Homo sapiens: one gene and its partner. The protein of the gene in region 2 interacts with the protein of the main gene of each other region in a pairwise test. Each region holds a gene or a part of one and is shown on either strand. Other genes may lie near its edges.

What was found.
Region 1: the proteins of RTN1 (region 2) and HDAC8 come close enough for resonance energy transfer, tested with the Homo sapiens proteins (one study listed by BioGRID).

The regions. Positions count from the first base shown.
Region 1 is NC_000023.11:72,564,394-72,580,479, forward strand, and holds the start of HDAC8 (histone deacetylase 8), read right to left. Parts: upstream 8,451-16,086; 5' UTR 8,369-8,450; coding exon 8,258-8,368; intron 7,717-8,257; coding exon 7,664-7,716; intron 4,492-7,663; coding exon 4,361-4,491; intron 3,638-4,360; coding exon 3,496-3,637; coding exon of another isoform or gene 3,492-3,495; exon of another isoform or gene 3,404-3,491; coding exon of another isoform or gene 3,364-3,403; exon of another isoform or gene 3,189-3,363; intron 1-3,188. UniProt on the Homo sapiens protein: Histone deacetylase that catalyzes the deacetylation of lysine residues on the N-terminal part of the core histones (H2A, H2B, H3 and H4).
Region 2 is NC_000014.9:59,855,435-59,870,639, reverse strand, and holds part of RTN1 (reticulon-1), read left to right. Parts: 5' UTR 1-9; coding exon 10-250; intron 251-15,205. UniProt on the Homo sapiens protein: Inhibits amyloid precursor protein processing, probably by blocking BACE1 activity.

The DNA of each region.
Region 1 (16,086 bases), on a different chromosome or scaffold from region 2:
GAAAATAGCCAAAAAACCTTTTAAAAGTTATTTTGGTTTTAAAATTTTGTACAGTCGGGTTTGATCTTTTCCTTTGTGATTTTAAAAAATTACTTTCTAAGCTTAGAAAATTCTTCCCCTTTAGAAGCTTGATAAATATCCATTCACTCTAGTGTTTAAAATTTGCTTTTTTAAATATTTAACTTTTCAATCTAGCTGTCACTCATTTTAGTTTATTACAGTAGATGAGGGTATAATGGTACAAGCTGTCACAATACCATTCATTTACTCAACAGACCTTTCAACTCCCATTCACTTGCAATGCATCCTTTGTAATAGATTAAATTCTATATAATTGGTCTCTTTGTTGGGGTGGGGGGTGTACTATAACCTATCTGTCTAATTTTTGTACCAGTGTTTTCATTACTGTAGTTTTGGATGCTTAATATCTAATAGTATTAGTCCTTCGTTACTCTTCTTTTGTAGAATATTCTTTGAAAATCATCCTTTTTTAGCTTTCAAATGCAATTATTTGCTGTCTTACTCCTAAGATATAAATTTCTTGCAGGTAGAATTGGTTTATTTCCTTAGAATAGATTGCCAAGAATATTGTTACTGGCCCAACTGGTATGAACATTTTTTCCCATTCTTAACACTTCCAAGGTTTTCAAAAGGGGTTGTATTAATTTCACTGTAATCCTTCTACCACCTGGATATTTTGAAATAAAGAATCTTTTTCAAACTTGGTAGGGGAAACAATATATCTTGCTTCAATTTCTATATCTCTGCTTACTGGTGATGATAAACATACATTTGACATGTAGTAGGTGCCTAATCAATGCTTGTTCAATGAATAAATGGCATGTATGAATCTGTACATATATTTGCAGATGGGAAGTTTAAGCAAATATTGTGATTATAATAGGTAAATGTTGGCTAGATGTAAGTTTGTGGCCTAAATGCCTGTAGTCCATCTACAGAGAGGTTCTAGTTATGCCAAGAACACCTTGGAATTCAGACCTAAACTGGGGCAATCTCTAGAGACTCTGTAATTTATATTTATCACAGGCATGTCCGTTTCCATGCAGGATCAGCTGAAAGATGTCTACAACAGTTAAGGCGATATATGTGGGTATCCCCATGTCTGTGTGCAGCCCAGAAGCAGTCGTGATTGGGTCAAGACAGAGTGTACTTCCTTTGGCAGCAAAACAGTAATAAGAAGCAGAGTACTCCACTGGAAAATGACCCAGGCCCTAGTAGGCCTTCTGCAGTTAATTTAATTGCATAATAAACTGGATGTCATTCATAGAAGCAAGCCTTTTCTATGAAGCCACACTACTTTTCTTCTCAACTTGCCAAGCCCAAGAGGACCTAGAAGTCTTTCGTTCAGAGAAGCTTAGCTTTCTCCTTTCACTCTGCACCTGGGAGGGGAGAGGGTCATTTTTTTTCTCCTAGCAGTCATTGTCTTTATTTTGAATTTAAAAAAAAGGCAGGCGGTGTGCAGTGGCTGTCATGTGTAATGCCAGCACTTTGGGAGGCCAAGGTGGGAGGATCACTTGAGGCCAGGAATTTGAGACCAGCCTGGGCAACATAGCAAGACCTCATCTCTACAAAAAATACAAAAATTATCCAAGCATGGTGGCACGTGCCTGTAGTCCTAGCTACCTAGAAGGCTGAGGTGGGCAGATCCCTTGAACCCAGGAGTTCGAGACTGCAGTGAGCTATGATTGCACCACTGCACTCCAGCCTTGGTGACAGAGAGAGACTCTGTCTCGAAAAAAACAAAACAAGAAAGAAAGAAAGAGGCCAGGTGTGGTGGCACATACCTGTAATGCCAGCACCTTGGGAGGCTGAGGATGGAGGATCCCTTGAGCCCAGGAGTTCAAGATCAGCCTGGGCAACATAGGGAGACATTGTCTTTATTAAAAAACAAAAAACAAAAAACAAACAAACAAACAAACAAAGCAAGAAAAAAGCAAGCAGGCAAGCAAGCAAAAGCTAACAAAAGGCAGCTTGTCTCTGTTTTTAAAACCATGTAAGACTCATTACTAAAACATTGGTTTCCTTTGCTGTGTTGCCCAACTAGTAAATTCTAGCAGTAAACTTTTTCAAGGACTTCCTTGGCCACAAAATCTGTCAATTTGATGGAAAAAATTCTGTTATTATCTTAACCTGCATATGCTGAAGTTGTGCTGTGTTTTATTCTGAAAAACAAAGTGTTGTTTTCTCTTGACCTAAGAGCACCTAAGGTCACGGTTGATTGCATGAACAATTGATTCCTGAGTGAGGCATTGGCAGTTACTACCACAGTGGCTTCATTTCTCTCAGACAGAGGATCGATAAATTCAGAGTTTAAAAAATCCTTCTTCTTCAATGTGGATTAAGTACTACAGAAATATCAAACAAAGTCCCAAATGCTGAAGGAGGGCCCAGCAATCCTTCTCAGACAGACTACTGCAGTTTGACATGTTAACATAAAACTCTAGAAGGTGGCCAGGCGCGGTGGCTCACCCCTGTAATCCCAGCACTTTGGGAGGCCAAGGCAGGCAGATCACCTGAGGTCAGGAGTTTAAGACCAGCCTGGCCAACGTGGTGAAACCCTGTCTCTACAAAAATACAAAAATTAGCTGGGCATGATGGCGGGTGCCTGTAATTCCAGCTACTCAGGAGGCTGAGGCAGGAGAATCACTTGAACTGGGAAGGAGGAGGTTGCAGTAAGCTGAGATCGCGCAACTGCACTCTAGCCTGAACGACAGGGCGAGACTCTGTCTCAAAAACAAACAAACAAATAAACAAACAAACACTCCAAAGGACTTCTCCTCTAACTCCAAGAAGCACCTAGGAAGAGCCTTTTCACAAGCCCTTTGTCTTTGAGAGACATCTACCTCTGGGTTGCTACTTTCATTAGAGGAGCATGAGCCCTCTTCTTGATTCTTCAGCCTTTTGTTTTAAACCTATTAGCGTCAATTTTCCACCTTTTTAAAAATCTGTTTGCCACTTCTTTTAAGAACTAGCTCTAAAATTCACTTCTGCCAAGACTTCCATGATTAATTTCTTTCTACTGATAAGTCTCTTCAGCTCATACATATATTCCATTGGTACCATAACTAATGTTGTTCTCTATTCTAATTTTGTTAATGTTTCTAGACTGTAAGTCCCTCGAAGACAGGGGAATTTCTAGAAAGCCGAAAAGGAATTTAGAGACTGTCTAGTTGTATCCTTTGTTCATTTTATTGATGAAGAAACTGAGGCCTAGGGAGGGTAATCAGTCCAAGTCAGTTAGCCAAGTTAGAAAAACTAGGTGTAGAGCCCAGGTGTCCTGACTTTGAGCAGTGTGCTTTCCACTATATTAGGTAATCTTTTTTCTATTTCACTTGGATTTCTTCAGAATGCCTTGTAAAGTGCCACATACACACACGTCTCTCTGTAAATGTCAATACAATAAGCATAAGAGTTTACATAACTGAGAAACTGACTCAAGGAAAGAGTCAGAAAACAGAAAGGTCATTTTCTTACTTCTTTGCATGATGCCACCCTCCAGACCAGTTAATTGCTACTTTGCACATTCCGTCAATCAGGCATTGGGCAGCTGTGATCGTAGCCCCTCCTATAGCTGCTGCATAGTCAAATATCCCTTCAGTGGCTGGGCAGTCATAACCTTAGGGCAAAAATCAGAAGAGCTGGTTAAAAGGTGAACTGGAAAAAGAGGAGGAATAGGTTGAGGTGTGACAACAACCTAACCTACTAAAAAGCCACTGTGCTAATATCAGCTCCAACTGAGACAGAAACAACTCCAATGTTGGGGATATAATATTTTAAAAGGTTAGAGCTAGAAAGGATAAACCCTCCTGATGAACTAGTCACAGGCTACAGATAGAGAAACCAAGCCTGAGAGGTGATGTGTCTTGTCAGTGGTCACACAGAGCCAGGCTTGGGACCCAGCTCTGTTGACCCCCCAGTTCAATGTTCCTCTGCTAAACCATGCTGTTTTTCTAGACTATCCTGCAGGTCACTTACAGTTTTAAAAAATGCAGCTGTTTAATGAGGGGTGAGGTACAAAAACTTAGCCAGAACATAAATCTGTACTCCAGTTAAAATATAAGGTCACAGGACAGCTAAATCAGCATATACACAGCCAGACCAGATCTGAGCACTGCCAGTAGGGCATAAGCAACTGAAAGGTTTTCTTTCATCTAACCCTTCATGTGGTTTTGCTCAACTCATATGGTTTGCTTGTTTAGTGAGTTATATGTGGCTAAACCAAAAGATTAAGATTGACAGTTAACACATGATTTCTTAACGAAAAATATTAAAAAAATCATACAAGTTATAAAAAAAATTAGTCTGTCCATCTCCCATCACTGCCTGGTAATGACTTTACCTAGCCCATATTCTATGGAGTCCGGATGATCATCATCGCCCTCTTGGCTGACCTTCTGGAGATGCTGCAGATAAGCATCAGTGTGGAAGGTGGCCATCTCCTCCATGGAGGCCACTTTAGGCTTAACTATCCTAATAATAACAGAGAGAACAAAGAGAGGTCAGTGAGTCAGACCCAGCGTATGCCAGAAGCTAGAAACAGAAGCCAGCAGTCTGAGAAGAAAATACGTCTCAACTTCTGGTTCCAATAGGCTGGAGTAATAAACATATTCTGTTCTTCCACTGCACTGTGCGGTCTTCACTGCCTCACATCTACAGTAGTGACTCTATTAATAAGGGGCAAGAAGATAGATTTTCCCTTGAGTTTATAGGTAAGTAAACAAAAGTAATTATATTCAAGTTAAACAAATAATCAGGTATCAGACAGACTTTACCCTGTGAGTTACAACTTTCAGGACAAACTAGTAGGCAGGGATATTTTCATTTGAACCAGTTGCGAATTGGGCTATCTAATCCTTTCAGCTATATCTTTATTTTAATAGGCAGCTATGTTATCATGCATTTTGAATTTGGAGTCAGATTTGGAGTCAGAGAATTGGGTTCCTGTCCTAATTCTGTACTTACTAGCTCTATAACCTCAGATAAGTCAACTGTTCTGTAGTTCAGTTTTCTTATTTGTAAAATGGGGAACTTTATGGGACTTATGTGAAGATAAAAGGATAACACATACAAAAATGCTTGGTGGATAACTATCATTCTATTAACAGATAAAAAATGGGCAACCCAAAATGTAATGTTTCTAGACTTGGACCCTCCTATCTGCCTCTGAGAGCGAGGCGAGAAGGGGCAAAATGGTTGGAACCGGACTTCACTCAGAACCTCTCAACCTACTCCTCACGAAAAATGACAAATAGAAGCGAGTGAGGGAATAAAGGGAGCTAACCCAATAAGAGGCCTTACCACATCTAACCTCTAGCTGCCTATTCCCCATTTCCTCTTCTTGACCCCACAGCTGCCACTACTGTTCTCTAGCCCTTGCCACTTAAAGGGTGGTCCATAGACCAGGAGCATCAGCATTCCCTGGGTGCTTGTTAGAAATGCAGAACTTCAGACTTGCCTCAGACCTGAGTCAGAATTTGTATTTTAACATGATGATTTTTAAACAAGATGACACATTTTAAGGTGATTCATATACACATTCAAGTTGAAGGAGCCCTGACCTGGGCCACAGGGAGGCAGCAGTGGTTTTAAATGTCTGCTGAATGGGAACACAGCCATGAGTTTACGATGAATGAATACGACTATACAGGCTACTACTATCACCAAGGTAGCTGGAAGAAATCCTGTGGTTTGGCCTCAAAAGTGAAATACATAGCCAAGACCCAAGAATTCTTGCTTCTTCTTAAAGAAGACAAATCTATACCACCAGAGGTGAAAAATCTACCCATTAAAATAAAAATTTTGTAATATCTCGGACCGTATTTCCCAGTCCTAAAAGCTCCCTCTTCTAGTACCCTTCCATTTATTTTGGTAAATGTTAAAAAACACTTACTGAAAACCTCCCTATTTAACAGTAAGCAAACTGGACAGTTTTGCTTTGCTTTGATATCTTGTTTGTCATAAAATAATTTTTTGAAATGTTAAATAACTTTAATGGAAGGCATATAGTTACTATGTTAACCAAACCATATGGGTTAAAAAATGGCTTAAAATGGGTGTGGTGACACGTGCCTGTAGTCCCAGCTACTCGGGAGGCTGAGGCAGGAGAATCGCTTGAACCTGGGAGGCGGAGGTTGCAATGAGCCGAGATCGCGCCACTGCACTCCAGCCTGCGCGACAAAGCAAGACTCCATCAAAAAAAAAAAAAAAAGGCTTAAAAATTCCCTTTAAAAGGTACAAAATGATTTTGTTAATAATAAGGATAAAATCTGAAAGCCTATTATTACACTACCTTCTGGGAGATAAATGAAGCATAGCACACTAGTTGGTATGAGCACTCACCTATTTGGCCAGAAATTGTCATAAGTAATCCTATATGTGGCAGGGTTATATTTGCTCTTATAACGACATCAAATACAGAAATGGCAATAAACAGCAAGTTCATGTTTTTGGAAGAAACAGTTAGCTCTCTCTTGAGTTCTGGCGCAGTCTTGGCAGTTTTCTTTGGTCTTTTTTGTTTGTTTGTTTTTTGAGACGGAGTCTCACTCTGTCACCCAGGCTGGGGTGCAGTGGCGCAATCTCGGCTCACTGCAAGCTCCGCCTCTCGGGTTCACACCATTCTCCTGCCTCAGCCTCCCGAGTAGCTGGGACTACAGGCGCCTGCCACCACGCCCGGCTAATTTTTTGTATTTTTAGTAGAGACGGGGTTTCACCGTGTTAGCCAGGATGGTCTTGATCTCCTGAGCTCATGATCCGCCTGCCTCAGCCTCCCAAAGTACTAGGATTACAGGCGTGAGCCACCACGCCCGGCCTTCTTTGGTCTTGATCTGTCTCCAGCCTCACCCATTAAAGTTTGGTGCTGGTGGTGGGTTGTCTAAAAGTCTTAGGTTGAACTCACACCCTCAAATCTGGCTTAGAATGAAACGAAATCAAAAGAAAAATGGAACACCTCCTAGCTGAACACCTTTTTGTATGAGACAGGTTTTAATACCCAAATGTACTCAAAATCTCCACAATGCACTGCACCTACCCCTGGGATACTTAACCAAGCAATCGAGCTGTATTTCTAATGAACCTTAACTGCTTCCTGCACTTTCCACTCCCCTGTCCCAAGTTTTCTTTTCTTTTTCTTTCTTTCTTTCTTTTTTTTTTTTTTTTTTTTTTTTTTTTTTGAGACGGAGTTTCACTCTTGTTGCCCAGGCTGCAGTGCAATGGTGCAATCTCGGCTCACTGCAACCTTCACCTCCGGGGTTCAAGCGATTCTCCTGCCTCAGCCTCCCGAGTAGCTGGGATTACAGGCGCCCGCTACCACGTCCGGCTAATTTTTTTGTATTTTTAGTAGAGACGGGGTTTTGCCATGTTGGGCAGGCTGGTCTCAAATTACTGACCTCAGGCGATCCACCCACCTAGGCCTCCCAAAGTGCTGGGATTACAGGCGTGAGCCATGCTCTCGGCCCCCCAAGTTTTCTTAATTCTTCAAGAGCTTTCTTGGGATTACAGGCAGATTACAAACACTGTGAATACTTTCACAGAAAGCTAAAATAATTTTTTCAAAAGACCATTCTTTTCCTTGCCCCACTGTGAAGCAGGATATTAAGGCTACGAACACCTAGCTTCAGGGCTATGTTCAAGAAAGACAACTTACCTCATCTGCTTATGCAGTGCATATGCTTCAATCAAAGAATGCACCATACTGGCCTAAAAACATCAGCGTAAAAAAAAAAAAAGAAAAGCAGAAATAGTCTCTTTAAAGTTTAATTCAGCAAAATCCCCGTCAATCTCACCATCCTGAACAAAGGAACGGATTAATTTTGTTTCAACTGGCTTCCCTTCTGTTAACAGTTACAATACACTTTAGACAATACAGATACAAAGTATCAAAATCACTAAGGTGAAAGCTACCGGGCCTTAGGCAGGTGATGGAACACCTTCCCCCTGCAGCTTGTTTTCCCACGACTTCAGCGGTCCCCTATGAGTGGAAACTGCGTCCTCTCCCCTCCTCCGTACCCCCTCCCCCACTCCTACCTGTCCATTGGACGTCCCGAAGAGACATGCTGCGCTCTCAGAAACGATATGAGAACACTTCCTTCTGATACAGCTTTAGGTATCTGATACAGCTACTCGAAATTTCTGAAGATTTCCCCCAGCCCAGTGTCCTCTCCGCTTCCTAACGCTCTTTCGTCCACCGCCCCCACCCCCACCCCCAAAGCCCATGGTCTTTCATCCCGACTTCCCTTACCCGTTTGGGGATCTTGGCCAGGGAGTCACACATACTGACATACTCGGGACTATAGATATAAACCGGGACCAGCGACTGCCCACTGTCCGCCGGTTCCTCCGGCTCCTCCATCTTCCGCTTAAAACCGTTCCGCAGCCACCTTCCAGATCTGGCTTTTTTCGGACTCGGCCAGGGTTCCAGTTCCTGCTCCTCTGATCGGCCGCAGCGGTGCTCCCTGGTCAACATTCCCTCCTATTCTTGAGATCGCCGGAGACACTATCACCGCTCCCCATCCTATTGAAGGAATGGATGGGACTTCCCAGACCAGACTCCCCTCATTTAGTGACCACAGTTCAAGGAAAAGGGTTTGGCAGATGTAAAAGTCCAAATAGCTGTCAATTAGGATCGATTGTTTTTATGGCACAAATAAGTAGGGTCAAAACTAACCATCCTTGTTGCCCTACGGGGCCATTTGAGATGAAGTCAGACCAGTTTCACAGCATGCTGGGAGATGTAGTTTCCGGAGGTTTGAGCAACGGAAGAGCCGGGGCTAAACACTAAAATAACCGCGATTTTTAGTTTCAGCGCTAAGACCAAAAAAAAAAAAAAAAAAAAGTAGCCTCAACTCTTTATGAATTGTTTCAATCTGCAAACACATCCATTTCATCCATTTAACCATATAAACACAGATAGAACGTGGCCACCTAGAGCCCCCACCATCCAGCTACATCAGCTGCCTATCCTAAGGATAGGCTTTTTTTTTTTTTTTTTTTTTTTGGTGGGGGCGCTATTTAATGGCACAAATGGTTTGAAAAGTTTACACAGTAAATTCTGTGATGCAATTTTATAGTTCATTTCTTTTCATCATTAACTATCCATGTCCACATGAGAGTTAACAATCTCAATAATTTACTCTGGCAAATCTGATAGTACTTTCCCAAGAGACTGGCTGGTGCAGTGGAAATTGCTTGGTAGATTCCGATCAAGCAATGATGTCAAATGTAACTCCTTGAACATTCATGTGGTAGGAAGGTTGCAAGCAGTGGTGTTTGGAAACTGCAGCTCTTCTCCTCCTACCTCCTCTTGTTTCTGCAGCTAAACATAGATTAGGGAAATATTTTAGGTTTGGTGTGAGGGTCCAGTTTAAGACTATCTGAGGCGGTTTTAGAATTACCATCAGCATTTGGAGGTTCCTGGAGGCCCCTATGATCTGATACAAGCTGGCCAGTGCTCAGGATCTTAATTCTCATGGCAACCTAAACTGACTGACTAACACCACTGGGACAACCTAATATCCTTACTATATTTAAAGTCTGGCTTGCTTTTTAGACTTTAAACATTTATTGAAGATTGTGACATGCACATTGGCCATATTATCTCATTTCATCCTTGCAACAGTCCTATAAAGGAGGTTGCAATACACCCATTTTACAGATGCAGTTTAGAGAAACAACATTCAAAATCACATACTTAACAAGCAGATAAGTAGGAATTCAAAATTAGGTCAGCCTGACACTGAAGCCTTTGAACATTCCCTTTATTATATAAACTTGATTCGTCCAGGATGACTTTGTGTTATGATATAACTTTGTTCACCCTCCATTTTGTATCCCTTCAATACTTATTCTGAAAATCTTGGGGGTGTTTTGGTGATGTGCTCTGTAACTAGAATGTAAGATCTTATGTTTCTTTAATTTATGTCTTCCCATAGTAACTAGTTAAAAGCTCTGCAGTCATTCATTCATCAAACATTTATCTGATATTAAGTGTACAGTACAGCTGAGGATTCAAAGGTAAATTATGATGTGATCTCTGCTCTCAAGGAATTTGCATTCTTTTTTTTTTTTTTTTTTTTTTTGAGACAGAGGAGTCTTGCTCTGTCGCCCAGGCTGGAGTGCCGTGGCGCGATCTCCTCTCGCTGCAAGCTCCGCCTCCCGGGTTCATGCCATTCTCCTGCCTCAGCCTGTCCAAGTAGCTGGGACTACAGGCGCCCGCCACCACGCCCAGCTAATTTTTTTATTTTTAGTAGAGACGGGGTTTCACCGTGGTCTCTATCTCCTGACCTCGTGATCCGCCCGCCTCGGCCTCCCAAAGTGCTGGGATTACAAGTGTGAGCCACCGCGCCCAGCCAGAATTTGCATTCTTATACAGAAGATGGGGCAAGTACACAAGAAACCAAAGGCAATGCAGAGTCAATGAATGTAGGATGCTTAGCCTACTTAATAAATAAGCATTAAGTACTAAATAACTGGCATTTAATAAATGGTAACTAGAATTCATCTTTGATGGCATTTGAGAGGGTCTTAGGAGGTGGGCAAGATTTTGCTTGGTGAAGATGGGAGCCAGGAGAGGGCATGCTGACTAGAATGAACAGCATAAACAGTAACACAAAAGGGAAAATTTCTAGTCGAGTTTAGCTAAAAGGGCCAGATCATGAAGAACATTGAATACCAGGCTAAAGAGAATAGACTACATTCTGTGGGAAATGGGAAAACATATTTAGACAGAAATAGTAAGGAAAAAAGATTTCTATAGCAGCAGTGTGTAGGAAAGATTAGTCATTAAAAGGCTAGGGGCAGTTAGAGTGCCACAATGGTCCAAATAAGAAGTGATAATGATTTTAAACTAGGGTGGGGGCAATGGGAACAAAGGAGAAATAATGTACAGGGTAGGTTCAACAGGACTTTTTTATTACTTGGATATTGGTGAGAGGGAGGAAGATGGAAAAGGGTTGCTGAAAACTCTTAAATGTAAACTCTGGGTAAAGAAAAGACTAGAGGTAGCAATATAAGAAAGAGGGCAATCGGGAGGAAGAACTCATACAGTAGGGCAGAATAGACATAGATTCTGATTTTAAAAGTGTTGAAAAGTGTTTCAGAAATTAGTGGGTTAAACAATTGCAGTGATACACACACACACACTTTTCCATATAAAGAGGAGAAAACTGAAGTCATAAGAGTGGCTGAGCTAGGCAAGGGATGTGGCTTTCTCCACTGGGATGCCTAACAGTCATATCCAACAACATTTTCAAAACCAAGCTCCCAATTTCCCCACCCAAGTTCTTTCCACTCCTTTTCTATCTTTCATAGCTCAGTAAAGATATCAACATCTATCCAGTTGCCTAAGTCAGAAACCTGGGAGTTATTTGTGTTTCTTCCTTTCCTTCACCTGCAGATCCAGTCCATCAGAAATTTCCATTGGTTCTATGTCCAAGACATGCCTTAAATACATTCACTTCTCTCACTCTGTACTGCCACCACTCTAGTCTGGATACTATTATCTCTCACTTAGACTTTCTGCAGTATCAACCTGGGCGTTGCTTCCATTCTTGCTGCCTTACAACCCATTATCTTTGCAGCCACCAGAGTGAACCTCCAAAAAAAAGTAAATCAGATCATGTCACAAAACCTGCCCCAGACTCTGGTGAAGACCTCTGAGCTAGGAAGAAGAGTGTCATTTTTGGAAATGCCTGTGTGTAAGAGTTTAGAGGAGAAAAAGATGTCAGAAAGAAGACAAGGAATGGTCAAAGACCCCTTTTTGTCATTAGAAATTCACTGGTGCCCTATGGAACAAAACAAAACAGGAGGTGGGGAGGAAGCCAGATTGTGGGGGTTTAAGAAGTGAAGCCAACACAGTTAAGTGTAGCTTCCTCTTTGAAAAAATGTGATTGTGAAAGGAAGGAGTTAGTCTAACAGCTTGAGGGGACGTCGGAGCCCAGAAATTTTTTTAAGATAAGAGAAAACTGCACATGTTTATAGACAGGAGAAGCTACAGGAGTTGACTGAAAGGTGAGATCATGATGACGGGCAACATAAGGAGAAATGAGACTTGTTCTGGGCCTTCAGGGATAGGCAGCGGAAAGAGGGCAGGAGATAGACTGGCCAACTGATACCCTAAATTCTGGACTCTTCTTGGATGACATGAAAAGGTATTGTTTCATGTGTCCTTTCTGATCTAGTAACAAATAGCTGAATGGCTCTAAACTGGAAACACTATCCAAGTACCCCATGCAATGTGGCAAGATGATTCAGCTATGGAGAAAGATAAATTGTTGCACAATGCTCTGGAATTGGCAACCTATTCCTGCAGCTAATCTCAAAGGGCGGCTAGACGCTTGCTCATGGTTAAGAAAGAGCACACATCATGCCACAGGTCCCTCACCTCAATTTTCCACATTCGTAACACCCATATGGTTCTTAAACTGGGAAGAAAACCCTTCTCAATGCACTTTATTTGCAGTTGGAGGACTTGAGGTCACAGGAAGTAGGTTGAATCTTGGCTTCAAAGCTTGCTAGGGTGGTGACCCAGGGCAAGTTACTTGACTCACTTTCCTCAATCATTATTGCTAAAAGTAACATTCGAACCGGTAAGTTCAGGTTGGGCTGTGCCATATTTTTTTGGTGCTTTCCCCTGCTTTTCCCCAGAAGGGGAGGCAAACACATTACAAGGGCACCACCCTTCAGTGAATGAGCAGAGTCTTCTCTGCTCATTTCACTATCTGTCCAGTGACACTTCAACTGTCTTCAACTGACCCTTGTCACACCACCCCCTTAATGTCATTTTCCTTGGAGAGTGTCATTGTTGAGAATGTGATCGCTAGCGTCAGACTGCATGGGTTCAACTTCCAGCTCTATCACTTATTAGATGATTGATTTGGGGCAATTTACTTAAACCCTCAGTGCCTCAGGTAGCTTACTTGTAAGATGGCAGTATCTATCTTACATGGCAATTGTGAAGATAAAATGGCTCACGCTAAGTGCCTATATAACAATGGCATTTGGTATGTGCTCAAATATTGGTTATTTAAGAGCCATTATGCCAAATATTTCTATATTTGGTGGGGAAGGGAGTTTCCCCCTACTGTCATCCTTACCCCCATACCACTACTGCACAAGTACTACTAGTGGTTTGAGAATAAGTTCTTGGTTTTTTGGCTTAGCCTTAAAAGAAATCACACATCTGCTAAATATAGGGTGACCATATCTTTCAAACTGAGACATTTTTTGAGAGTGACACAGTGCTATTGATAATTATGCCAGTAAAACAGGCATAAATGGGGGCTGCCCTGGACAAACCAACACCTGAGGTTACTCAAGTTAAAAAGGAAATGAATGTCTACCAAATATAAGAATAAAAATTGATGGCTGTATTTTTTTAAAATTAAATAAATAAAAAGGAAATGAAGACTACATGTGGAAAATAATCTCCACTGCATTAGTGCAGACACTAGGTACTTGGTAAGTAGAAAAAGGAATGGCAGAGGTTTTGCCAGCTGTGGTGAAGAACAACTTTTGCCCCACCAGTTGTGTAAGATTCCCAGAATGTAGTAAAATTTCATTAACCAGGATGGAACTGTAGAGACAATGTTCATCCTTGCTGGATAAATCCTGTTATAGAAAAGGCTAATGAATAGTATAAACAAACAAGATTCTGCCAAATATTTTTAATATTTAGAAAAACAAGTTGTTTTAAAATACCCTTCATTAGGGAAGAAGCACCATTTGTACACAATTGAAAGGCTGAGTAAAAATGTTTTACTCATTCATCAGAAAATGTTCCCTACAGGCCAGGCGCGGTGGCTCACGAGTGTAATCCCAGCACTTTGGGAGGCTGAGGCAGGCGGATCACCTGAGATCAGGAGTTTGAGACCAGACTGGCCAACATGGTGAAACCCCGTCTCTACTAGAAATACAAAAAAAATTAGCTGGGTGTGGTGGCGCATGCCTGTAATCCCAGCTACTCGGGAGGCTGAGACAGGAGAATCGCTTGAATCCGGGAGGCAGCGGTTGCAGTGAGCCGAGATCACCCCACTGCACTCCAGCCTGGGCGATAGAGCAAGACTCCGTCTTAAAAAAAAAAAAAAAGAAAAGAAAAGAAAAGAAAAGAAAAGAAAAGAAAAGAAAAGAAAAGAAAAGAAAAGAAAAGAAAATGTTCCCTACAGATGTCAATAAGCCCGCTTGAATTTAGTAAGCCTTGTTTGAGTGGGTATGTATTTGAATGATTAAACTGCATTTCTTTACATATATTATCTAACATATTATGAAATGTATAATATATTATATATGTATTAATATATTAATATTATTCTACTTCAACCCAATGAATGAGCTTTGACTGTACTGTATAATTAAGCAGAGTATGTAGAATAAAGCCATGAAATAAACTCCAATCACAAAAACACATGTGAAGTTTTGCACATTGGCACCAGACATGATTTAATTGGAAATTCTTATTATTTATTCTATTTTCAAAACATAAGTGCTTTTTTAAAAAAAGTCTAACATGTCTTTTTAGTACCACACACTTAAAATGAACAAAAAACAAGTCGAGTTTTCTTAAAAGTTGCTTTAAAAGTTAAATACCACTGTATGGGGACCATAATGACACAATTTCGTAAACTCAGAGAAATGCAGCCCTTCGAGTAAGTTCAGGCAAATGAGTGTGGGAAGGAGTGGATCTTTTGCCTGTGGCACTACAGATATACTCCCTGAGATTGGGGTACACTTACAACCAGTGAAAAGACAAATAGTTTCAGAACAGGTTGTAAACTTTCTTTAAAAGTGACCAGAAAATAATGTAGTCAGAAAGCTACTTACTGTGTGTTTCCATTTGCTCTGAGAGAAGTGCTGAAAAGGTTTGCTGTCCTCTCTTTGTTTCTACTATCTGTATTCTATCACCCTACTATATGCTTACTTATTCATTATATTCATAAGATTGTCACTGGTTCTGCAAGAATTGTTCAGAGAGTCTCTCATCCCCACCCTCACCATTCCCAATATTGGGGAAAAACTTTAGAAATCCAAGATAAAGGAGGGGGTTGAAGTAGGAAGTTATCTAAGTGCAAAAAGGGAAGTTAACAGAGTCTCTGCACAATTCAGAAGAAGGAGAGTTAGAAGAAACATTTGTCAAGCAAGGCTACCTACATATGGGATGAAGGAAGAGGACTGAAGCTATTCTTCCACCAATCTGTGTGTGTCAATCTGAGTCCACAGTCACATCCCTTCTCTCACATGCAACATTCTTACTCAGTCCATCAAATGTAGATACAGATTGATATACAGACACATCAAAACTGCTTACATTCAGAAAAATTCCCATGTATGCTTATACACACACACACACACACACACACATACACACACAAATATGTGTCTTTATAAGAAACAGACATATGCCCACAGATACCATGATATACAGGGATATGTACACTAGAATTAGGAAGTGAAAATATATATGAAAGAGTTTAAGAATAGATGGGGGGATAGGGTGTCAGGGAGTTGAGTTGGATGTAGTAGAAAGTAGGTGAGTGAGACAGAGACCAGGAGCACATGAAAAGAATGCTAAGTAGAGCACCTATAGACTGGACTGCTGTATTTATCTTTGCTGAATACAGACGCTTCAAATTATTGTCTGTGTTGTGTATTGGCCCATTTTTCAAAGGCAGGGATTAAGCGCATAAGGCTGTCTTCAGGGAACTAAGCCACCTCTGATTCCCTCTCTGTTCCCTATGTATAAGACATTGTCCAGGCATCGTCTCTTCTTTCCCTTCCTCTCTGGAATTGGGCTCCGGGCTCCATTTCTGGGTTATTCTGCATTTTCTGCTGCAAATACAACTCTGAGTACCAACAATCTTTATAAAATGTGATTTCAAGTGTTAGTTCAGAAATTCTTAAATATGCATGCTGTACTTGCATTTTTTTGATATTTCACCAAAGTGAGAGAGGCATTATGTGTGCAGACACAGAGAGGGCAACAGTAGAGACAATGATTCTACATAGAAACAATTTTAAATTATCACTCAGTGTGAAGCAACCTGTAAGTAAGGAAGAAAACCATGATCCAGTACTCTC
Region 2 (15,205 bases):
CCGCCAGCCATGGCCGCGCCGGGGGATCCGCAGGACGAGCTGCTGCCGCTGGCCGGCCCCGGGTCCCAGTGGCTCAGGCACCGGGGGGAGGGGGAGAACGAAGCGGTGACGCCGAAAGGGGCCACGCCGGCGCCGCAGGCTGGGGAGCCCAGCCCGGGGTTGGGCGCCAGGGCCCGGGAAGCGGCGTCGCGGGAAGCCGGCTCGGGCCCCGCCCGGCAGTCGCCCGTTGCCATGGAAACTGCATCCACAGGTAAGGCGGGCGCCGCTGCCCCTCAAATGGCGTCGGGGACCAGGGCCCCCCAGTCAGTCCCCTTCTGCGCGGCTCTCCTGGGCACCTGCCTCGCGCTTTCTGCCTTGAGCGCCGACCCCACCCCCGCGTCGCCACGGGCGACTGGGAATATTCGCGGGCTGGTAGAAAACAACAATTTTATTTTTCCCAAAGGCTCAGAAAAAGTCAAGATGCTTTTGATCCTTTTATTTCATTATCATGATTATTTCCGCTTTAAAAATTGTTCTCATAGGCAAACAGCAGCATTCTGGCTGCTGGCGAGTCTGGGTACAAGTTTCTCCCTCCTGCCAGGAGGCTCCGAGCTGTAGGGCCCGTTTGACAGGTTGTGGGGATTTTGGGGGGCGTGTTTGCGCGCAGTGTGCGCGCCGGCTACAGGAGATGCTGACAACCGAGCGGCGGGCAGGCCCGCGGCCCCTGGACCCGGCTCTGTCCAGGGCAGAGATGTGGCTGTAACTGCCCCTTACCCTTGCCCTCCACGAATCGCCACCACACCTTACTCCCCCCACATCCCTCCGCCTTTTCTCCCGCAGAAAACAAATCCCAGGGAGTTTGTCCCTAATTCGGGAGGCACAGCTTTGCAAGAGGGTTGGGTGCTGTGGCTGCCCCCGCCCAAAACCTGTATTTCGCCGCTGCCCGGATGGCCCCACCTTGCAGGGAGCATTGAAACTTCAAGTCCTAAGTGCGGCGGGCCTGGCTGTGGGTTGGAGGGCTTGGGTGGTGGTGAGTGGACGTGGTACAGTTTACCAGCAGTCTAAGCGCCCCCCCCCCCCCACCCCGGAAATTGCCCTGGGTTTGGCCATTCTTCGCCTGACGCCCTATTCAAAGTCTGAGCGCGCCAGTGTCCAGCGGGAGCCCAGGCCCCTGGCGCATCCTGGTCAAAGGATCCAGGAAGCGCGCTTTGAGGCTGCCGGCCTGGTTAACGCTGTTTCCAGGGAGAGGAAAGGGGATGCTGTGTGGTGCTCTTTCCTGAGAAAGCTTTGCTATGGTGGAGTGGGAGTTGTGTAGTTTTGGCAATGTAGAGCTAGAAGGCCTGGGGTGGGGGGTGCTCCCAGAGGAGGGGAAGGGGAGTGGGACTGGTGTGTGTGCTCTTGGTGGTTGATTTAAAGAAACCCCTTTTCGTAAGCTTCTCTTAAGGGTTATGTGGAATGTCTAAGGTAATCGTAATTAACTGCCCTGGTACAGAAGATCTGAGCTGGGGAAAAGAGGTTTGGAGAATGCGTTGAATAAAAATTGTCAATATCCTGAAAGGAAGAGAAAAAGTGGAGACCCTATATAAGAAAAAAGAAAAAGAAAGAAAGAAAAGTACTCAAAAGCCCCAACGCCAAACGCCAAAGGTTATATATTAATTATTATATCCCTAGGAGTGGGGGAGGATTTAAATCTAAGAATGGCTGCTCAGTCTCTCTTTCAACTTCTGCATCCAAGTGAAAACAAAACTCTTTATAATTGCAAAAGAAGATGGCAAATGATAATAGACAAAGGAAGGTAGTTTTTGTCTTTACCATTCTTTGTTGAGGATAGACTGCTCATAGTTCAGAATCTTTATCCACTGTAATCAAAGTAAATTGTTTCTTTATGAAACATTACCCACCTCCTATTAGTGCCACTAAGATTATGTGAACTAGAAAAAGGAAGCTAAGTGCCCCATGCTCAGTAACATATCCACAAAAGTTATTATATAGGAAATGCTTAGAATATATATTTGTGGGGTACAGTGTGATGTTTTGACATATGTCTGCATTGTCAAATGATTAGCTAACAAATCCATCATCTCATGTACTTTTTTTTTGTGGTAAAAGCGTTTAAAATTTACTCTTTTAGCAATTTCAAAATGTACAGTGCATTGTTACAGAAAGGTGGCTGTAGTAAATAACAATGCATTTTGCATTTTTAGTATTATTATTATAGAAATACCTTGCTTTATTGAATGTGTTTGGGGTTTTCTATCCTAGGCAACAAATATAGTAATAAAATCAAACATGATACTACGTTTGGATGGGAGAAGAATGAAGAAAGATGGAAGGAGCACATATTTTGCATATTTATATAGAAATTTTTTAGTTTATGATTGTGGCTAGAAGGAATTTCTGATATAGTTGTTGATTGGTTAATGTCTTAAATCTCTGTGTTTCTTATTAAGTAGACCGGATGTGCTGCTATAAGAGACTCAAACGCCAGAAATGCTGTATAAATAAATAACTAGATCTTAAAATTCCAAACAAATCTTGTCCAGCTTCCTGGTCTGTTATTTTGGCAGTTCTATTGCTATAAGCAAAGTTAGCAGGTGAGCCCTCAATTGTATCAGAGATGCCTATTAAGCACACTACTTTACACTGTATTTCTTAATTTACTTTTTTTTGGCTTATAAACAGAAATTTATTTTCTCACAGTGCTAGAAGCTGAGAAATCTAAGATCAAGGTAGATTTGGTGTCTGGTCAGGGTCTGCTTCCTGGTCCACACACAGCTGTCTTTTCACTGTGTCCCCACATGGCAGAAGAGTGCTTTATTTTTTTAAAAGAGTGGTGCTTTTTTGGGACTCAACTCAAACTAAGAAGTAACTTAGACTTTGAGTGTGATGCACTGTAAACAGATTTTGTTTCTTTTTTAGATGGAAATATAAGACAGATATTGATGTTTTAATAACTGTTTTTCTGAAAAACATCACCAATCATGCCATCTGGACAGATATTCTGTTATTTATTTTTATACATTGATGGTAATTAAAATTATCCCAGGAACATTTCCAAAAATATGTCTCAGCAGTGTCCTGGAATGAATATAAGTTTAAACATTATTAAAACTGCACCATAAAACTCCATCAATCCTCTATTTTCAGGTGTTCTCATTGCTTCTGTCCCTTTTGTGGCGTGGAAATAGTCTCATCAAAATAACACTGTCTTCTAAAGTTACAACTTCATGTCTAAACTGATAATGGACATGTGAAATTATGTGTGTTGACAAGGGAACATTTAATACACCGTAGGTAGGCTACGACATGTTAGCGTTGTTAATCATAAAAGTGCCATCATCTAATAACTTTATACAAAGAATGTTAAGAGCAACTGTTCTGTTTTTTCATGATCAGTTATTTTATTACTGGAAACTATTCAAAAGGAGCATACAATAACAAAAGGAAAAAAGAATGGTCCTTTGTTTAAAGAAAGAATTTTAAATAGAACATCTGAACAAAATGAAATAGAGGTTAACTCATTGCCTGCTTTGGAAATTAACTCATTGACTGCTTAATATATGGAAAGCAAAATCAAGAACATGATGGAGAATGGTCAGGAAAAATCAGTCCAATATGATTTGCTGCAGTGATATCAATTTATAAATAATTTGACTTAAATTTCAAGATAATTACAAAAAGCATTTTCCAATTTACTTTACATGGACCATATTGTTTATATGTCCTCATTTTTCAAATGCTAAATGTGATGCTGTATTGGAAAAACATCTTCTAAATTCCATTTGGAGGCTAGATTAACTGTCTTCACTTTTGGATGTGTTTGACAGATGTGTAGACATTTTTTATTTGGAGTCATTTCCAGGTAATCCCCTTCAGAAGGTATAAATTTCCATCTTCTTTCTTTTGAGAAAGCTACAGTTCTATTGAAATGGTAAGGAACATTACACTGTGCCATTACTATCTTTAAAGAAACATATAAGATGAATAAAAGAGTTTGGAAAACTAATGCAATTTATTTCTGTGGGCATATCCTCTGGATACAATCAATACCATTTCTGGAAGTAAGTACAATATATGTTCTTTAATATAGGGAATTCAAATTAGGTTAAATTAAATTTAGGATGCTTACATACTTTTAAAATACATTGATAAATATTATAAAGGCTTTCAGGTTAACTTTCCCTTCATGAACTTACTGTTCCAAGAAAACCACCCTGCTCATTGCCCTGCTCATAGGCTCTCCTCTCTCCATCTCTTTTTTACTTCTGATTCTGAGGGTTGAGAGAAGCATTATTGGTTATCTTGCCCATTTTATTGTCTATCCCTGGGAGCATGGATTGCAAGGATTACAGAAAGCTTTTATTATCTTTTGTAAAGTGAGAAACCATTGCGGTTCAATTCAACTTAGTAGACTTATGTTAAATGCCTCCTTTGTGTAAGGATCTGTGCTAAACACAGGTCAGTCATGACTTCCTAAAACATGTGCACCTTTCTGATTCACAGTATTTAATTTAGCCAAATAGTTCCTTTTGTGTTATTTTTCATTTTCTTCATTCCCAAGTTATTGCTGGAAGCTTGACTAGAAGGGAATTATAATAATCTAACCCCATGGGCACAAGGGTATGAGTTAGTTTTCTGAGATCAACACAGGATAAGTAAATATGAGCACAGCTTGCTCAGACTGTGAAAGACAAAATCTGTCTTTTTGTCTAGCTGTGAAAAACAAAATCTTTCTCTCCCTTTATTTCTATCATCTATCTCATTCTCTACATCTTCAAAGAAATAACTGGCTAAATGTTACATCAAGATCTTTGGATTAGTTAGTTGTGATTTTATTCAACAATTAGATTATTTCAGTGGTGACTAAGGGAGTTTTGAAAACGATGCTGGAAAATTTAGAGGGCAGTGAAAATAAAAGACATTTCAAGAGACAAACGTATCTACATAGGAATGCTCTAGGCTAAAGTCATTGTAAAGAACATGGTCCAAAAATGAAAGACAACCAGTTTTGTTTGGTTAAATAATATTTGAGGGCAAAGAGAACAGTGAGAAGAGTGTGAGCCAGAGAGGCCCACTGTTTGTGGAAGATGCTGTAGTGATAGGGTATGAGAAAAGGGAGGGAAGGGCTTCTCAATTCTTATTTGAGCTCCCTAATTTAAAATGGACAGTGATTCTTAAGTTGGAAAATTGAAACATACAGAAAGAGATACTGGGATCCCAGGATAAGTAAACAGAAGGTAAAATCTTGTATTACTACTTTGATGAGATCAGTTCTTCACATCCAACTACTTTACATCTCATGGAATTGAATGAGTGTGCTGAGCAGCTTTAAATTCATTCCCAGTATCTTTGGAGAATAAGACTAGGGCTAGAAAAGCTGAAATTGATAAGTGATTTTCAAAAAGGGGAAAATGGTGGATTCTTAAAACTTATAAACCAATATATTTGACACTGACTGCTGGTAGAATCTAAGAATGTGTTATTATGCTAAATATTCATAGACCCTTAGAAAAGAATGAATATATTGTTCAGAAATTCCCTCTAGTTCACTAAAAAATAATGCCTGTACAACATTATTTCCCTCTTTTTCAGATTTTGAATTACCAACATGTATGTAGCCCTTCCTATGTCTAGGAACTCTGCAAAACGCTCAACTGACATAAAGATATAGAAAGCATGCTCTTTAATTTATAAACTGCACAAAATTTCAAAGGATGGCTGATATGCTACAGGGTAGCATTGCGATGAAAAAAATCTTGATTTTAATGTTTATTCAAAAGCAACAAGATAAATCTGTTTATTAAAATTATTTTTGTCCCGATTTAAAAATTGGGGGTGGGTAGAAAATACATACACATGGTATTAAAATCTAAAAGGTACAAAAGGGTAAGTAGAGAAAAGGAAGTCTTCACACCTTACCTTTCAACAATCCATTGCCCCTCTCCAGAGGTAACCATTGTAATTAGTTTTAGCAAGAGAGCATTACTTATGATTATACTACTATTTATTGAACTCTTGCTATATGTCAGGCTTTGTCTAAGCACTGAGGATTATAGTACAGAAAAGGACAGATAAAAGCCTCTCATCCATAAACTATACTTTTTTTTTCTTGGTGGGGGCAAGGGGAGAGAGTAAGGAAGGGCAACAGAGACCAGAACATCTATATCAAGGGATGATTAAGTATTGTGAAAAAGGTCAAAACAGAGTAATGGGAATGAGAGGGATAGTCAAAGAAGACCTCTTTGATAAGGTATCTTTAAAGCACAGACTTGAAGGAAGTGACACAACAGTCTTGCAGATGTCTGAGAGAAGAACATTTTGGGCAGAGGGAATTTCCTTTGCAAAGGCCCTGGGTGGGAGTGTGCCTAGCACATTGAAGGAACCACAGGAAGAGCAGTGAGGTGGAGTAAGCAAGGGGAGAATGATAGGGGATGAGCAAAGGGTCAGCGGTAGAGAGGAGTGGATAGATTAGGTCCTATAGGCCCTTGTAACAGCTTTAAATATTACTCTGAGTGTGATGAGAGCCACAGGAATGGGAGAGGTGTTAAATAGAGAAGGAACATATTTAGAGTTCAGTTTTAAGTTTAATGACTCACTCTAGTCACTGCGTTGAGAATCTAACATGGGGGTGGTGGTGGTTGGTGTGGAGCAAGAGTGACCTACTAGTAGGCCATTGCAATAATCTGAGAAAGAAATCATGGTGGCTTGCACCAGAGTAACAGCATTGGAAGAGGTGAAAAGTGGTTGGATTCTAGATATATTCTGAATGTATGTAATGTGTTAGAAAGAACACAAGGGACATGCCATGATTTTTGGCCTGAGTAAACACAAGAATGAAGTTGTTATTAGCTGGGGTTGGGAAGACTTTAGGAAGAGCAAGTTTTAGGGAAAAAACAGGAGTTTGGTTTTACACATGTTAATTTTTGAATGTCTGTTTGGTGTCCAAGTGGAGATGTCAAGTAAGCAGTGTAGAGTGGGGCTGGGGAGTGATCTGATCTGCTTATATACATTGGGAGTTGTTGGTGTAGAGATGAGATCACCAAGGGAGTGAGTGTTGACAGTGATGAGGTCAAGGAGTCCTGGGTCACTCAAATATACAGAGGTCTTTCAAAGAAAACTGAGTAAAAGTGGGCGACGAAGTAGGAAAACTGAAAGAGACTCCAGAAGAAAAGATAAATATATGTCAAGAGGAATAGAATGATTGATTCCGTCAAATGCTGCTTGTGGTTAAGATAGAGACTGAGAGCCAGCCACTGGATTTGACAATGAGGAAGTCATTCAAAGTGCCGGGAAAAACATCTCGGTTGAAATGGTTTTAGAGCAAATGAGAGGGGAGAAAATAAGAGATGGTATTTGTAGACTTGACTCTTTGGGGGAGTTTTGTTATAAAGGAAACTGAATAAGAGGTAACTGTATGGAGAGTGAGATGAAAAGAAGGGAAAGTATTTTTTTTTTGCTATGGAGAATATTAAGGCATATTTGCAAGATGATGTAAATGATGCAGTAGTCAGGGAAAGATTGGTGTTGCGGGAGGTGGGGGCATTTCCTGAAACTGTGTCTCTGAATGAGTAAGCAGGGATGGATCCAGCACACAGACAAGGGCTGATATTGGATAAAGGTGAGGACAGTTCATGGCTATAATGGAGGAAAGACAGAGGAGAGGGCACACCTGCAGGGAGTGGTTGGAGATGGGGCTGAGAACAGGTGGAAGTTTTCCATTAACTGCTTCTATTTTATCAATGAAATAGGAAGCAGGGTCAACAGAGTGAAGGCAGGAGTGGAATTGTTGAAAGTTTGAGAAGAGGGGAGAAGGTATAAAATTGTCGTTTGGGAAAATGAGAGAGTGAAAGGACTAGGGCAAACTGAGGGAACACTGAGTAGCCCTTGGGGCTCACTTAGAGCTTAAAGTGAGACCAATCACTGTATATGTTATCTTGTTTTTGGTTTAGAGTGCAGGGTTAGTTGGATTGATTTTTGTTTTCCAGTGATCCCAGTGGGAACAGATGGGAAATGGATTTGAGGATATATGCAAGGCAGTATATAGATGCTTGGTCTTGGAATCTGCTGAGGAGGAATGAAGCATAGTAAAAAGATGACATAAGCAGTGGATTGTATATGCTGGCAGGGTTGCTAGAGTAATGGTACTAGAGTAAGGGAGATGAAAGGATAAGAGATGATGATTTGGTAGCTGGGGTGTTTGAGGTAGATAGTAGGAGGGGTACTATTACTGAGAAGCAGTGGAAAACTGAGATGGAGTGGATGACAAGGTCATTGGAGGAGTCCAGAAGAAAGGTGAAAATAGGAGTGAAACAGTCACCTACATGATTACTGACATCACAATGAACCATGACAGATCCTGGGAATTACAGTAAACCAGACGCTAATGGATATCTTTAGGAAGGGACATAATGGCCTAGGATTCTGCCTAGGGGCTTTTAGGGGGAAGGAAGAACAGTGGCCTGTAACATTATAAATGTAAAATGTTGACTATAAGTTCTGAAAATTCTATTTAATATGTATAGAACGTAGGAGATGCAACTTAAAATAGTTCATGGTGGGGGTTGGGAATTTTGTAATTAGCTAAATATGAGCTAGTGGTATGGTGAAATTACTAAAATATCTTATGTAATTTCAGATAGTATTAATAGAAAGTCTCAGGTGCACATTATACGAGGTAATAGCTCCCCTAGATTCTGTTCTAGGCAGGCCAAATTTGGATTCTCATACTAAAGGGTAGGTGCCATGTTTTGAGAGACATTGACGAGCTATAATACGGTGAGAGCAGGGCAATTGGGAGGCTTTTGGAAAACATGCCATTTGAGAGATAGTTAAAGAAATTAAGAATTTTTATCCAAAAGAAAAGAATGAAGATCTGAATGTTAAATACTAGAAGAACTTTCATGAAGCAAAGGAAGAAGACTTGACCCAGCTGATTTCACAGAGCAAAATTAGGACTAGTGATGTGGAGAAGTAGATTTCTTCTGAATGAAAGAAAATGTTCTAATAATTAGAACTGATCAGAAAAGACAGATTCTCTCCCAGTTAGTGATGTTCAAGCAAAAGCCAGGTTGCCATTTTAATGTGGGGAAAGCAGAAAGGAAGTCATTAGTTACACTAAGATGTTTATATCTTCCTAAAAGACAACAGTGCCCCTAACTTGACATTGTTATTGTTACATTATTACTTGTATTAGTCCATTTTCACACTGCTGATTAAGAGATACCCGAGACTGGGCAATTTACAAAGAAAAAGGTTTAATCAACTTACAGTTCCATATGGTTGGAGAGGCCTCACAATCATGGCAGAAGGCAAGGAGGAGCGAGTCATGTCTTACATGGATGGCAGCAGGCAAAGAGAGAGATTGGGCAGGGAAAATCCCCCTTATAATACCATCAGATCTTGTGAGACTTATTCACTATCATGAGAACAGCATGGAAAAGACCTGCCCCATGATTCAATTACCTCCCGCTGGGTTCCTCACATAACACGTGGGAATTCAAGATGAAATTTGGGTGGGGACACAGCCAAACCATATCATTCTGCCCCTGGCCCCTCCCAAATCTCATGTCCTTACATTTCAAAACCAATCATGCCTTCCCAACAGTCCCTCAAAGTCTTAACTCGTTGCAGTATTAACTCAAAATTTTATAGTCCAGTGTCTCATCTGAGACAAGGAAGTCTCTTCTGCCTATAAGCCTGTAAAATCAAAAGCAACTTAGTTACTTCCTAGATACAGTGGGGGTACAGGCATTGGGTAAATATAGCCATTCTAAATGGGAGAAATTGGCCAAAACAAAGGGGCTACAGTCCCCATGCATGTCTGAAATCCAGCAGGGCAGTCAAATCTTAAAGCTTCAAAATGATCTCCTTTGACTCCGTGTCTCACTGATGCAGGAGGTGGGTTCCCATGATCTTGGGCAACCAGGTCACACTGATGCAGGAGGTGGGTTCCCATGGTCTTGGGAAGCTCTGCCCCTGTGGCTTTTCAGGGTACAGCCTCCCTCCTGGCTCTTTTCATAGGCTGGCATTGAGTGCCTGTGGCTTTTCCAGGCACATGGTGCAAGCTGTCGATGGATCTACTGTTCTGGGGTCTGAAGGACAGTGGCCCTCTTCTCACAGCTCCACTATGTGGTACACCAGTAGGGAGTCTGTGTGGGGCTCTGACCCTACATTTCTCTTTTGCACTGCCCTAGCAGAGATTCTCCCTGAGAGCCCCACCCCTGCAGCAAACTTCTGCCTGGACATCCAGGTGCTTGCATACATCCTCTGAAATCTAGGTGGAGGTTCCCAAACCTCAATTCTTGATTTCTGTGAACTTGAAGGCTCAATACCACGTGGAAGCTGCCAAGGCTTGGGGTTTGCACCCTCTGAAGCCAGAGCTTCAGCTTGTCCCCTTTCAGCCATGGCTGGAGTGGCTGAGAAGCAGGGCACCAAGTCCCTAGGCTGCATACAGCACGGGACCCTGGACTCACCCATGAAATAATTTTCTCCTAGGCCTTGGGGCCTGTGATGGGAGGGGCTACTGTGAAGACCTCTGACATGCCCTGGAGACATTTTCCCCTTTGTCTTGGGGATTCACATTTGGCTCCTTGTTACTTATGCAAATCTCTGCTGCTGACTTGAATTTGTCCTCAGAAAATTGGGTTTTCTATCACATTATTAGGCTACAAATTTTCCGAACTTTTATGCTCTGTTTCCCTTATGAAACTGACTGCCTTTAACAGCACCCTAGTCACATCTTGAATGCTTTGCTGCTTAGAAGTTTCTTCTGCCAGATACCGTAAATCATCTCTCTCAAGTTTGAAGTTCCACAAATCTCTAGGGCAAGGGCAAAATGTTGCCGTCTCTTTGCTAAAGCATAACAAGAGTTACCTTTGCTCCAGTTCCCAGCAAGTTCCTCATTTCCATCTGAGACCAGCTCATTCTGGACCTTATTGTCCATATTGCTATCAGGCTTTTGGTCAAAGCCGTTTAACAAGTCTCTAGGCAGTTCCAAACTTTCCCACATTTTTCTGTCTTCTTCTGAGTCCTCCAAACTGTTCCAACCTCTGCCTCTTACCCACTTCCAAAGTTGTGTCTTTTCAGTATCTTTTCATGTTTTCCAGTATCTTTTCAGCAGCACCCCACTTTACTGGTATCAATTTACTATATTAGTCAGCTTTCATAATGCTGATAAAGACATACCTGAGACTGGGCAATTTACAAAAGAAAGAGGTTTAATGGACTTACAGTTCCATATGGCTGGAGAAGCCTCACAATCATGGTGGAAAGCAAGGAGGAGCAAGTCATGTCTTACATGGATGGCAGTAGGCAAAAAGAGAGATTGGGCAGGGAAACTCCCTTTTATAAAACCATCAGATCTCGCTATCACGAGAACAGGATGGGAAAGACCTGCCCCATGATTCAATTACCTCCCACTGGGTCTGTCCCACAACACGTGGGAATTCAAGATGAGATTTGGGTGGGGACACAGTCAAGCCATATCATTATTTTAAAATTATTCCATATTTCTCAAAAAATAAACCACATACTAATGAAACTGGAAACTGTGTGCATCACAAAAACCATAGTTACCCCAAATTGACTACTTAAAATGTGCTCTTCACAGACTTGTGGCCTTTTAAAAATCCTCCTCTAGTTCTCCCTTGTCAAGAAAAGTCCATAATGTGACATATTTGCTTCTTAAGAACTATATAATTTTATCCAGTTTTGGATTATTAACATAAATATAAAATATGTTATCTGCAAGTATCTCTTTTATTCTTTTTGCTGAATTATCTTCTTCATTTTTTACTGAATCTAGTTTCATAAATATTCAACATATTTTAAAATGTTTTGGAAATTCATTAAATAATTTTGTAATGCTAAAAGCATCATACGATCCTTTCCTTCTTTCTCTGCCTCACTATCTGTATATTTATGGAAGATTATTCATTGGAAAACTATGTTTCCTGGGTTGCTTAATGAATTAAATTTTTAGCTGGAAGAATTCTCCATTCTAATTTCCGTGTCCAATCCCCAAATGCCTTTTCTAATTCATCTATTGCATGAGATTTTTTGTAAAATCTGTTATAGACCAAATTCTTGCTTTCTGAGTTTGGAAAATTTGTTGACGCTCACATTCTCCAAAATTCCTAGAATTTTGTTTTATGCATAGCAAATCTTTGGCTTTCTAAAAAAAAAAAAAACTACTCTTGAACAACAGAAAATTATGTGTATTTGAATGATTCCTGATCTAGTTGACAAGCAAAGGAATAGAAAACAATGTCATGTCTGCCTTTGGCATGAATTTTTCAGCTCACTCTGAAAAAATCAGGGCTTCTCAAAATATGGTCTATAAACTACCTGCTCCAACATCACATGGAGTGACCACAGACCTCATCCTAGGGAAGCAAGCCTACCAGGTGCATGTTAAAGCTGTAAGAAGCACTGATTTATTGGCTTTCCTGCTCATGCTTGGCATTTTGTAGGAGACGTGGGGAATAGAGGAGCATGAGCCATGTACCCTTTCCCCATTTCCTCCTGGGCGTATTACCATCCAGTTGGGAGATATGGCCAACTCCCACAAAGCAAAGATGAATAACTCAGGTCAGCATGCAGCTTGTTGCTTGGATGGATGGTACAAGCTATATGTGTGACACGAATTTCATGACTGTATGGGTTCCAATGTACCTGGTCTCTTGAAGGATGGATAGAATTGGAAGGGGGCAGAAGTGAGCAGAAAGGCAGTCTGAGTATGGGGATGATGACAAGGAAGTGAGCAATGATGAGCCTAGTTTCATAGCTTATCCAGATGAGGAGAAGGAAGATTCTGGAGGGCTTGAGGGCTACTCAGAACTCTAGTCTCCTTTCTTATGGATTCTGGGATCTTTGCAGGCTTATATGTAAGGGAAGTAATATCACAGAGCTATGTTAAGGAAGATTAGTCTGACAGTAGAATAGAAGATGAATTCAATGAGGATAATTCTAAAACCTGCGAGTTTTGCTGGAAGAAAGCCAACCCAGTAACATCAATTTCAGGGCCTCTAATAAGTAACCATGGGAATAAAGAGGGAGGTACATGGGAAGAAAGATGAGAGGCTTCACAAGAACAGTCAACAGGACTTTGTGACTAACACACATTATCTGGGGACGAGGGGAGGAATAAATAAAAAATGGCTGCAGTTTTGTGCCCTATGGCTGGGAGAATGTTATGCTATAGAGGGTGGGAGGGGGAACTGGCTAGAGGAGAGAGGATAATGAATTCACTTTTAGTCATATGAGGCTTGAAATAATGACAAGCCATTTGAATGGAAATTTCTACTTGGCAACTGTAGATAAAGAAATGGATTTTGTAGGTGACAACAGGATTGTTGATATGGATTTAGAAAATTAGAAGAGAAGCCATAGAGATTATGTAGTATGGAAAGGACAGAGGACCAGGGACAGAGCAAATACTCCTTGCCCCTCATTAAAAAAGCTTAAAGCTTTAGCTTTAAGCTCCCTGAGCCTCAGATTCTATAGTTAGGTATATATGGTATTAGGTCTTGTGGAGTGCCTGGCAATCATATGGTAAATACAGGTACTCCTATTATTATAGTATCACAAAAGCCAAGATGACGTGGTACAGAATGAGCCCTGACTGAGAGATCAGATTTATCTAGTCTTGGCTTTGGTACCTAATATCATGTCAATGTGGGCAAGACATATGACTGCTTTATGTATCAGTTTCTTCATATATGACATTGCATGAGCACAGTACTGTTCTGGCTATCTTACAGGGTTATGTGAAGATAAAATGGGATAACACAAGAAGATGCATGGAAATGGCAGATAACTCTGTATCTATAAGGTACTATTAATAGGAAGCCTGGTCAGTAGCGTCAGATGCCATAGAGAATGAAGATTGAGAATGAACCTCAACCTTAGATGTTTTACTATAAAATGCTTGCTGTGCCAAGCTGGACCTCAGCCAAATAGCAATGGGGAAGCTCAGGAGAGCAAGGAAGGATTGGGGGTGGAGAGAAGTCGGTTTTGGTAATCCACATGGGAAGACATTTTGGAGGAGGGCAGTAGGAGTGGTGATCTGCTGCGTTTCCCATGTCCTGATGAGTGATCTGTGAGTACAGGGCTGAGGTGTGCCCGTGGGGACCAGCTGGAATGAGGGAGGACAGCAGATGGAATCTATTCTGATTCTCCTATTCAGTGGAAGGGCAATAAGCCTAGGAAGCTGTCCCAGGTATGTGTGGGAGTTGGTCTGGAAGAGGCTGCTTCTCTTACCAGAGAAGGCAGCACAGCGAAAGCTAGCTCCTGCTACCCGCCAGTACAGGGCTAAATCAACTGGCCCTGTGGGCTTGTGGGAATCTGCAGGCTAGTCTTATAACTCAGTAGATTAAAGTCTTATATAAAAACATGATTGCTCTAGAAAGATGGAGTCTCTATCCCTTCTGCTAAATACAGCTAAAAATCCTGGACATTGCATATAAAATAAATAGAAAGGGACTCTGAAAGGTGAATGAAGAGAAGAAGACAGTCTTACTAGAGATCATGGGACCTGTGGAAGGACACAGCAGTGAGTTCTCGGGGTTTTCTGTTTTCATCCTATATCTCAGGCTGGATACTGGAGAAGCCAACAAGCAGGAAATGCCAATGGGCACAGACAAAAAACACCCACAAAAAAAGCCTGCTGTTTCTAGCGAAAGGACCAGAAAACGGCATCCTAGCAGGATAGAAAACTTTTAGACAGTAATCACTGTATCCAGCCAAACACCATGAAATAAACTGAGGTCCCACCTCCATGCCCACCACAAAAGCCAAGGAGGGAGCCTAGACTTCCACCTTTCTGAGGATGTAAGAGACACCCAGCACTAGTAAGGCTTTGGCACTTAATTCACCTGCCAGCTAATGTGGTGTTAGAGGAAGCCTAGAGGAGAGTCAGGAGTTTCATCACTGCTCAGTGATGAGACTGAGTGGAAAACCTGGACTTCTATTTAAGCAATATATATAGTCTCAAGACATAATACCAAAACTGTCCAGATTTTAATGGAAAATTACAAGAACCAGTAGGATATGAACTTGAATGACAAAAGACAATCGACACCATATTAACACAGATGGTAGAATTATCTGAGAAGGATTTTAATGTAGCCATCACAAAAATTATTCAACAAACAATTACAAACACACTTGAAATAAATAATAAAATAGAGAGTCCCCAGCAAAGAAATAGAAAGTCCCAGCAAAGAAA